Regions from separate parts of the Homo sapiens genome. Here region 2 is reported to be linked to region 1. The links are microRNA targets in miRTarBase. Many come from high-throughput screens and were not tested one by one. Region 1 holds a microRNA gene; the other region holds the end of a gene's coding sequence.
The links. The annotated mature microRNA hsa-miR-4761-3p reads GAGGGCAUGCGCACUUUGUCC and lies in region 1 at 1,452-1,472, shown strand. An mRNA with a match to its seed (bases 2 to 7 or 8) in the 3' UTR can be bound and repressed. Matches are read on the target gene's strand: a 7mer-m8 pairs with bases 2 to 8, a 7mer-A1 pairs with bases 2 to 7 and ends in A, and an 8mer does both.

Region 1 (5,373 bases):
TCCCTGGCGCTGACACGTCAGGCAACTGAGGCACAAGGCTGGCATTTCTGAACCTTGCCCCTCTGCAAACACAAGGGGGCGATGGTGGCACTCCAAGCAAAGGGGCGTGTGGGTGCTGCAGGAGGAGCACAGAGCACTGGCGCCCCTCCCCTCCCGCCCTGCAGATGCCGGAGGCCCCGCCTCTGCTGTTGGCAGCTGTGTTGCTGGGCCTGGTGCTGCTGGTGGTGCTGCTGCTGCTTCTGAGGCACTGGGGCTGGGGCCTGTGCCTTATCGGCTGGAACGAGTTCATCCTGCAGCCCATCCACAACCTGCTCATGGGTGACACCAAGGAGCAGCGCATCCTGAACCACGTGCTGCAGCATGCGGAGCCCGGGAACGCACAGAGCGTGCTGGAGGCCATTGACACCTACTGCGAGCAGAAGGAGTGGGCCATGAACGTGGGCGACAAGAAAGGTGGGGTCCGGGCCAGCAGGTGCTCAGCTCTGGGACAGGGACCCAGGACCAGGCATCAAAGCCCTTACAGGAGAAGCTGTTATCACCCCATTTCCAGGGGGCTGGGAACCCTGGGATATGCCCAGATAGGGCTGGGGGGCTCCTCTGGAGTCCCAGGGTGCCAGGGTCCCTGATGACCCCTGCAGGCCCTGCTGCCTGCTGCCCCAGGACAACAGGCCCCCACACTCACAGGGTCTGACGGTGGTGCAGTTCCCCTTGAACTCTGTTCTGGCCACCATGGGACCTGCCTGGGGACCAGTCAGACAGGTTCTCCTGGGCCCGCCTCCCGCTTGAACTTCAGCCTGGGGCACAGGATGTGTTACCGGGCTCACGGAGTGACTCAGGGAACTAGTGCCGCCCCAGGGCCCCAAGGTGGGCGGTTCGGTGATTCAGAGAGGGCAGCTCTGTGTTAGGACACACTGGGGCCAGCCAGGAAGGGTGGAAAAGATAGGGACCAGCGTGAGCATAGAGGCTAAGGGACCATGGGAGCTCCAAGCGCGCTCACAGTGGGGACCAGGTCCTGGGGGCTGGGGACACCAGGGAGGTGAAATACCCCTCCAGCGGGTAGGGAGGGTGGGCAGAGGAGGGCCAGCGGCCAGGCATTTGGGAGGGGCTCCTGCTCTTTGGGAGAGGTGGGGGGCCGTGCCTGGGGATCCAAGTTCCCCTCTCTCCACCTGTGCTCACCTCTCCTCCGTCCCCAACCCTGCACAGGCAAGATCGTGGACGCCGTGATTCAGGAGCACCAGCCCTCCGTGCTGCTGGAGCTGGGGGCCTACTGTGGCTACTCAGCTGTGCGCATGGCCCGCCTGCTGTCACCAGGGGCGAGGCTCATCACCATCGAGATCAACCCCGACTGTGCCGCCATCACCCAGCGGATGGTGGATTTCGCTGGCGTGAAGGACAAGGTGTGCATGCCTGACCCGTTGTCAGACCTGGAAAAAGGGCCGGCTGTGGGCAGGGAGGGCATGCGCACTTTGTCCTCCCCACCAGGTGTTCACACCACGTTCACTGAAAACCCACTATCACCAGGCCCCTCAGTGCTTCCCAGCCTGGGGCTGAGGAAAGACCCCCCCAGCAGCTCAGTGAGGGTCTCACAGCTCTGGGTAAACTGCCAAGGTGGCACCAGGAGGGGCAGGGACAGAGTGGGGCCTTGTCATCCCAGAACCCTAAAGAAAACTGATGAATGCTTGTATGGGTGTGTAAAGATGGCCTCCTGTCTGTGTGGGCGTGGGCACTGACAGGCGCTGTTGTATAGGTGTGTAGGGATGGCCTCCTGTCTGTGAGGACGTGGGCACTGACAGGCGCTGTTCCAGGTCACCCTTGTGGTTGGAGCGTCCCAGGACATCATCCCCCAGCTGAAGAAGAAGTATGATGTGGACACACTGGACATGGTCTTCCTCGACCACTGGAAGGACCGGTACCTGCCGGACACGCTTCTCTTGGAGGTGAGCCCCAACCAGGATGGCATCCGTGCCAGCTGCTGCCCAGAGCCCATTCAGTCAGCCTCAGCCTCTCCAAAGAGCCAGGCATTCCAGTAGAGCCCTGTGTGGACACAGCTCGCTCTGGAGGCACCACCTGAGGTCTGGGAGTGTGGGGGACTGAGGAGGCCCTGTGGTGGGTGGAGATGGGTGGGGAGCTGGGCCAGGGGCCTGGCTGGGTGGCCTGTTGGGAACTGGGGAGCCAGCTGCCTGTGCAGGTGCAAAATGGGTGGCAGAAGTGGGGTGCACACCCCAGACCAGACACCAGGGCAGAAACGGCACAGGACCAAGGAGATGGGGTGGGGAAGGGCCGCTCTGGGCCCAGCCTGCTCTCCCCCAAGCAAGCCACTGCTCGTGCAAAGAAAGCATGTGTCTCCTGCAGATCTTCCTCCTGAGGCCCCATCTTGTGCATTCCCCCAACCCAGCCCCACTGGCGAGGACCCTGAGTGCCCCGAGTGAGGCTAGACAGCGGGTGGGGCTGTCCTCGCTTCCCTGGGGGGCGTGGGGCACTGGTGGCCCTTCACAGACTGATGCTTAAGGAGCCTCACATCAGTGACACACTGCCCCATCCCTCCCTGGTGGTCAGCGACACTGAGTGGCTCTGTGATCCTCCACTGGGCTTGGGACACCCACCCTCACGGCCTCCCCACCTGGTGCTCGCTCACCTGCAGCTCTCCCAGAAACTGGACACTGCTGTTAGCAGCCGGACTAGGAGCACGAGGGGCACAGCCCCCATGCCTGGCTAGGTAGGGCCGCTGGACCCTGGACACGGATTGGAAGGAACCAGCACTAGCAGAAGCCTGAGGTGTGAAAGGGCAGAGAATGTTCCAGGAACAATGGGAGTCAGGGCACACAGGACTTTGGGCAGGTGAGGATGAGGTTAGACCTGTCTTCTGGAGCTGGGCTCAGGGGCTCATGCCTGTAACCCTTGCACTTTGGGAGGCTACGGCAGGAGGAGCGCTTGAGGCCAGGAGAGTTCGAGACCAGCCTGGGCAACATGGCAAAAGAAAAAATATATATATATATTTTAGATGGAGTCTTGCTCTGTCACCAGGCTGGAGTGCAGTGGCACGATCACGGCTCACTGCAACCTCCACCTCTTGGGTTCAAGCGATTACCCTGCCTTAGCCTCCTGAGTAGCTGGGACTACAGGCGCGCGCTGCCACACCCGGCTAGTTTTTTGTAGTTTAGTAGAGATGGGGTTTCACCACATTGGCCAGGATGGTCTCAATATCCTGACTTCGTGATCCGCCCGCCTCGGCCTCCCAAAGTGCTGGGATTACAGGCGTGAGCCACTGCGTCCGGCCGTATTCCAGCTTTCAAAACAACAAAAAACAACAAAAACTTTTCTGGAAAGATCCCTGTCAGCCTTGTGGAGTGTGGAGAGGGCTGTGGGGAGGGCATTTCAGATGCCCTGAACTCACGAGGAGGCACTGAACCCTGGCCGTGGAGAGGGAGGACCTGTAGTGGCCAAGGGGGTGGGCATTGGGAGGGTGGGAGGGAGACCTACAGGCCAAGACAGGGTAGCTGGAGGGGGGCTCACCCCTGACAAAGGAGCATGATGCTGGCAATTGGGTATTGATGGCAGAGAGCTGGCACTCAGCCAGATGGGCTTCACTTGGGCAGGAAAGACACCCACAGCTGGGCCTGCGTTACTGCGGCCGAGTTTCAGCAGCTGTGATGTGGGTGCTAATTACAGGGGCCTGCCTTCATAGAAAAGTAGCAAACATTGCAGTTTAGTAACTAGGAAACTAATAGTTTTCTCAGTGCTGCTTGCGCAAAGCTGGTAATTATCTCAAAAGAAGCAAAGTCATGAAGTGGGAAGTCATGAATTGGGAATGGGTGTCCTTGTTAAACGCACATCTGCACACTCAGGGCTGGGGCCCTGTGCCCCCTTGTGGAGGGTTAGGGGACAACCTGGCTCTTGTGAGGGTCTAGCCATCCCCTCAGTGGGTTCTGTGAGCATCGGAGGCACGAGGGGTGAGGGGCTCAGGAGCAGGTTGCAATTCAAAATCAAGGGCTGCTTTGAGGAGGCCTCTCCACCGGGCTGCTGTAGTCACCAAGTCCAGCCCATGCCCAAAGGAAGAGGAATGAGTTCCCCCTTAAAAAAAAAAAAAAAAAAAGAAAAAGACAGAGTCTTGCTCTGTGCCCAGGCTGGAGTGCAGTGATGACATCATAGCTCACTGTAGCCTCAAACTCCTGAGCTCCAGTGATCCTCCCACCTCAGCCTCCTGAGTAGCTAGGACTAAAGGCATGCACCACTACACCTGGCTAATTTAAAAATTTTTTGTAGAAATGGGGTCTCCCTATGTTGCCCAGACTGGTCTCAAACTCCTGGCCTCAAGCGATCCTCTTGCCTCAACCTCCCAAAGTGCTGGGAGTACAGGTGTGTGCTTGGTCTGAGGCTCCAACTTTTTGTTGTTGTTTCTCGAGACAGTCTCTCGCTCTGTCGCCCAGGCTGGAGTGCAGTGGCGCGATCTTGGCTCCCTGCAACCTCTGTGAGGCTCCAACTCTTGAAGGGAGGAGAGTCTAAGGAGGGTGGGCCAGATGAAAACCACCTCAGCATAGTGTCACCTGCTCCTCTGACACTGTCGCTTCTCCACGGCATTAGATTTTCAGTCCTGCTCAGACGCTGATGCATGTTTAGCCAGTTCTCCAGGTGGTCTGAGTAGCTGGTAGGAGGCTTGCAGTGTCGGGCGACAGGCAGGACAGGTGCTGCCTTCTTTCCCCTCTTGACCAGTTTCGTAAAGGAGTGGGCCCCTGGCAGCCTCCAAAGGTGACCCATGCTCCTTTCTGCCCTTCCCTCCTTCTTTCCTGTTTAACTCGTGCAGGTGCAGTGGTCTGGTGTCTTTCAGTCCGCTGACGTCTTCTGTATCCCTGATGACCAGATTGGGCTCCTGAGTCCCCTGGCGCAACCCGAGAAGTCCAGGAGCCCAGGCCCCTCACTCATGCATTCCCTGGCCCAGACTGGAAGGCAGCCGCCCTGCTCAAGGCCTAGGCCATTGTCCTCCTCCCGGGTGGCGCTTTGTTCTACGTCTTTTCAGCTGACATTGCTAGGACATTTTTTTTTTTTTCTAAATGAAAACACATCATGATTCATGGTGGTACTTCCTGCTCAACTCCGGACCTTGGGGCTGTCCCCTGACCTCACTGACCTTGCAGCCGTGTGGTGTCCATACTGTCACATGAAAGCCCCCTGCTTTCTCTGCAGCATACAGGCTGGAAACGACCGCCACCCACCACCAGGACAGCTGCAAGCCCTGTGGGACTCTCCAGGCCCATCCCAGAGGCATGTGGGGTCGGATACCAGTGTTTCAAGGCACCTGCCTGCAAATTGATTTTATTATACTTTAGATGTTTGAGATTGCTTGTTAACTTTTGTTTGGTGACTAAGTCAAATTTC
Region 2 (5,373 bases), not on the chromosome of region 1:
AAATTCTGAATGAGTGGACAACGAGGCTTATATTAATTTGAAATTTAGCCACTGTAATGTTGCTCTCCACTTTCAACAAGAGGGTTCTGCATGTAGTTATACCTGAAACTTAAAGATGGGTGTATGCAGCATGCCATAAATAAAAATCAATTCATTATTTTTATTTAAAAACATTTGGAATGAATTTAGTGTCTGGATTGACAATGTAGAGCTATACATTTTCTTGTACGTATGTGGAGATGGCATTAGTAATGGAGATATTTTATATATACAGGTTATTTAGAACCTGAAAGATTAACTTTACAAATTCAGATGCATTTGAATTTGATGGTTAAGGTAATATGAGAAGTAGAAGAGAGACAGGGGGTGGGGGGGAGAAAGAGGTGTTGGAATTTGTAATTATGAAAGAAGGTAACACTGTGTTTCCTTCTGTCTTATAGCCTGAAGAATAAGTAGTGAAAGCATCAATCAAGACATAAGAACAAAACATTAGCATTTCTCTGCCGTGGAGAATTGCTTATCAACCACCAGAGGAGGCTTCTTTCTTGAACAATAAACATTTCTTATAAGGATTCACAGATTCACATACGACTGATCTTGATTTTTGGAAATGAATGAGGTTTCTTTTTTCTTTTTCCTTTTTTTAATTTTGGGGTAAGTTATGATATTTGGATGGATTTTTAAATTCTTTCCTGATAACATATTTAGCACATGTTCTAAATTATAATCCTATAGCAAACAGTTGGAGCATTATTCAAACTGAAAGTGGAAAAATTTAAATTTCCAATTTATTCTAGATTTCCTCAGAGCATAATTATTCTGTTAAATCCTCAATGAGTGTGATGTAAACCACCTCTATCCAGAAATATACATTCTTTTCTCATCATGTTGGACACAGTTGAGGGTGACATGCACAGAACTGGAACAGATCACTATTAGTGGAAAATACCAAATGGACAAATAAATACCAGTCGTTTTCTCCGTTCTCCAAGCACAGGAGCCAGGTTTACCATCTGAACAATGAAGACGAAGGGAGTAAATAAAGGAAGAATTCTCATCTTTTTTCCTGATCATTCAAAGAACAGTTTCTCAAGGTTAAGCCAAGTCCTCCTTGCAAGTTGCCAAATAATAGCTTAGGAAAAGAATTAGTCTGCCTGCATGATGATCTTCTTAGGCAAAAACGTCTTCACAGCCCTTGACCTTGGTGAATTTTTTTCCCCAAAAGCATCCAAAAGAAGAATTATAAACCCCAGAATGAGATGGAAATAAACAAGTATTTTTTTTTATGATGTTTGGCCTGAACTGTGGGCTTTAATTGGGGGATACTGATCGTTTGGAAAGAAGTGAGAAAATTCTGAAGAAATGGCGGCCTTGGGCTAGGCGGGGTCCCCTATTTCTTCTGTTTCTCACTGAAGTCCTACTGCTGAGCCAAGACTCAGTCACTCTGGAAAGAGCATGACCGATAAAGAAAACAGTTCCTTTCTGATGGGGAGCGTCTGAGTGCAGATCATGAGGCTCTTTCTCTAGGTTTAATTCTTTTCCATGGTGACCGGACTTGGTGTCTTGTAGCCTGGTTACGAAGTGGGACGTTGAGCTTCTACTGACGATGCCCTGCATGGACCAGCTGGGATCTGGCTGGGGCTGCCCTGTGTCCCTAACGACCATAGGCAATCCATCTTCTTGTGTCAGCAATTTCTGGACACCCACTGTTTTCCACCAAGAGCTGAGGTGGCAACAACTCAGTGAGCAATAAACAAAATGACACAGAAATGCACAGTGTTGTTATGAAGGAGCCTGTTTACCTGTGTTCAAAATCTGGCACCATTCCCTTGAGCAGGGCCCGCTCAGGAGGGACCAGGTCTGCCAGTTTCTGTGCCTGCAGAGAGACGAAGCCCCACGAGCCACACCCTACTCTACAAGAGGAAAGGGGGTTGGATGGGAAGAATCTATTTTGCTGTTTTGGAAAGCACACAGCCGACCTACAAACCTCCTGTGATGGTGTTTCTTCGGATGTGTAAAATAAGGCTTTATTTGTCAATTCCGCTGTAAAATAAGCATTGTCCGAGTAAAAACAGCAGCAACAACAAAACACTGTTTCAGTTTGGGTTTAGTGAGTGAGCTTATGCCCTAAAGTGCTGTGTGTGTGTGTGTGTGTGTGTGTGTGTGTGTATTTAAAATAACCTAATATAGAAAAGTCTATGAACATAGATTTCTTTTACTTTACAGAGAGGCTATGCCAAACCCTTTATAGATAATCTTCCGGCCATAATAATCAGATTATTTCAGAATTCCTCATCTAAATACCATTGCTCCTTGGCAACCTGTCAAATGCAAGTGAATACCCTGCCAGAGGTTTTGTGTGTTTGTTTGTTTTCAAATTTCTTTATTTTTGCCCATGCAGATAGTGGAAATTATCATTCTAGTGTACCCTGGAGATGACATATTTAGTTTTAGGCAGGAAGGGGCTGCTAATGTTGTTTATATTTTGGGAATTCTGGAATGGAAAGATTCCTACTTGGGAAGCTAGCTGTTTGTGGTTGTCTTTTCTGTTTGGTTTGCTGTGGTTGTGTTTGTTCAGCTAAGTCATATCTTACCTTCCCATTTTTTTATGAGTGGATGGGAGTGGGATGGAAGGTAAATGTTTTCAAATAACCAAATCAATTCTGAAGGAGAGGAAAGAGACCCACACAGACCCAGGTGTGTCCCTGTCTTACGTCCAGTCCACCCGGAGCTGCTGACACGTGGTCCCAGCAGAGACTCCGGGCCAGCTGAGAACATGAGTCAAGTGATTTTCTGTAAAATGTTAATTAAAAGGACCTAGGAAAGAACCCATATATTTGAAAGAGTGAAGCTATTCAAATTATCAATATTTAAAGTATTTTTACTGTTCCAGAGTTTTTATAATAATGTTAACTAAACTAACCAAATACTGCCCATTTAAAGTTTTGCTGCAGTGAGGGAAAAATTATTCAAAATTAACATAACACACAAGCTTAATGGACTCCTTATACTATATCAGAGTAAAATTATTTGTATTTAAAAGGTTAGTGGTTACGTGGTTGAAATTGTCTTCTTAAGAAGATAAAACACTCCTATAGTCTTGGTCATGCAGTTAATTTACTTTGCAAAAAGTTTTTCTCCGTCAGTACAGAGGTAAGCTTCAGGCTAGCACCTGTGCCAGAGGCCACAAACGCCACGGTAGTGAAACCCAAATTAATGAGTCTTCATTAAATTTAGTCTCCAAGCCCAGTGAACTAATAAATATAGTCATAAAGTAATCTGCTAAGTAAAGGGGACTACAGTGATTCCTTTGGCTGATAAAGGTAGTAATAAAACTCTCATCCGCAATTGCTTGACTACAAAGACAAATAGGATTTGTGTTTCACTTGCCTGTTAGACGACATATATAAGCATAAATTGGAACTGAAAGAGTCTTTACACTTTTTTATTGACATGAGTTTATTAGGTCAACCAGACCAAAGGATGAAAAATTTAAGATACATGAAAAATACTAAAACTCCCATAGGAAAATTTGAGCCTTCTGGTTGGGGCTGGGGGTGGAGTGTGGGGGCATTCTAACTCTTCCAAAGCTGATATTTTGAGTCGGAAATTTCTGACAAGTCAGTGTGAACACAGAATATTAAAGCCCCACTAAGAAAATTACCTTTTTAAACTGCCAGGTAATAAAATAACTATACTCTCTCTATATTCCATCCAAACAAAATATTCATTGTTCACTTGACCCACTTATATGAGGAACTGTTTTTCTTTTGTGACCAGAATAAGGAGGGTCCAATCAACATATTATTGTGGAGATAGCCTTTTTTTTTTTTTTCTGGCTTCTACCTAATTTATTTATAATAAAGACAAGCTAGGCTACCTCATAGGATTCTGGTGTGGATTCGCTAATTAATAAATATCAAGTGCTTAAAAATATGGATCTCTGTATAAATCCTGCCTTAATTTGTTTTCTAGTTTAAGATGTGCATGTCAAATCAACTGTCTGAATATTTGATTGTAATATTCATGTTTGTAAATTTGGCTTTAAATTTAAGATATAAAAATTTTGATGTGAAATGGAATCCTAGCATGGGTTGAGAGCATCTAACCCAAGACTGGCAGATATAGCACCTAGGGAAACAAAAAGCACCTGGAAACCAAACCAAAATGTTTTTAGAAGGCATTTTTGACTGGGCGCAGTGGCTCACGCCTGTAATCCCCGTACTTTGGGAGGCTGAGGCTGGCAGATCTCTTTAGGTCAGGAGTTCAAGACTAGCATGATCAACATGGTGAAACCCCATCTCCACTAAAAATACAAAAACTAACTGGCTGTAGTGGTGCATGCCTTTAATCCCAGCTGCTCCAGAGGCAGAGGCAGGAGAATCGCTTGAATCCAGGATGCGGAGGTTGCAGTGAACCGAGGTTGCAGTGAACCGAGGTTGCGCCATTGTACTTCAGCCTGTGTGACAGAGCAAGACTCTGTCTCAAAACAAACAAACAAACAAACAAACTAAAAAAGTATTTTAAAAGAAGGAAAGGAGGGAGTCTCAGCATTGGTTTGAGGAGTATATTAAGTAATTCTGTGTTCTAATAATTAAAATGCCAAGATTCATCAATGAGTTATATAAAAAGTAGACTGGATTTAAAGTGAAGACTATGATAATGTAATCCTTACTTCATTCCAATGTTGAGTGAAAGGTAAAGGGAAATCATAGCTAGTCCACATATTTCTAAATACCTGCAAGAGAGACTGTGCAGACCAACTTGATTTGTGTCTTCATAGAAAAATGTTGAGTACTATTTTTTTAAATGATATAGCCTAAAGAGAAAAGAATGAAATTAATATCTAACAGTTTCTTAGTAACACCATCTGAAGGCTCTATGGTAACTAGTTAAAAGATGATTTTACTGCTGGCTGAACTGCGCTTCCATTTTCCCCTTATGATTAATTACTCCTTAGTCACTATTCTGAGTAGCAATTTTATTTGCTAATTTCAAATGCCTCCACTTAATTAGCAATTCGTTCTGACCTTTAAAAACTACATTCTATAGTCTTCAGATTATATGAGCAAAGGGAAAAAAATCCAATTTTACCTGTCTCCCACCACCAGCCACCCATAGCGGCTTACATTGTTTCTGGGATACCGTGAAACTACTGTACAGTGTCAAACTTGAGTTAACGGTGGTTGTTTGAAATCCAGGCTAAAGTTCCCTCATCCTTCAGGGGGTCAGTAGGTTCAGTGAGAGGTAGGGATGCTCCAACTTCAGAGAGTTGAGGTAATGTGTGATGTAGCACATCTGACTGGTACATTTTATTTTTTTAATTAAAGAAAAATGAGAAAAGGTACACACAATAATGGATTCCCTTTTGTA

Region 2: the mRNA of ZMAT4 is a reported target of hsa-miR-4761-3p. Seed matches in the 3' UTR shown: 7mer-m8 at 1,607-1,613.

What each region holds. Positions count from the first base shown.
Region 1 is chr22:19,962,363-19,967,735 of GRCh38, forward strand. MIR4761 (microRNA 4761) reads left to right here and starts at 1,391; the gene lies at 1,391-1,472. It overlaps COMT (catechol-O-methyltransferase), which reads left to right. Exons shown (of 6, transcript NM_000754.4): 3 at 165-453; 4 at 1,204-1,397; 5 at 1,806-1,937. The coding sequence starts at 165. It also overlaps a transcript of ARVCF not described here. RefSeq lists enhancers at 1-447, 448-1,163, 1,164-1,879.
Region 2 is chr8:40,527,306-40,532,678 of GRCh38, reverse strand. It overlaps ZMAT4 (zinc finger matrin-type 4), which reads left to right. Exons shown (of 7, transcript NM_024645.3): 7 at 441-2,089. The coding sequence ends at 456. Among named protein-coding and RNA genes, the nearest start is that of SIRLNT, 190 kb to the right of the region's middle.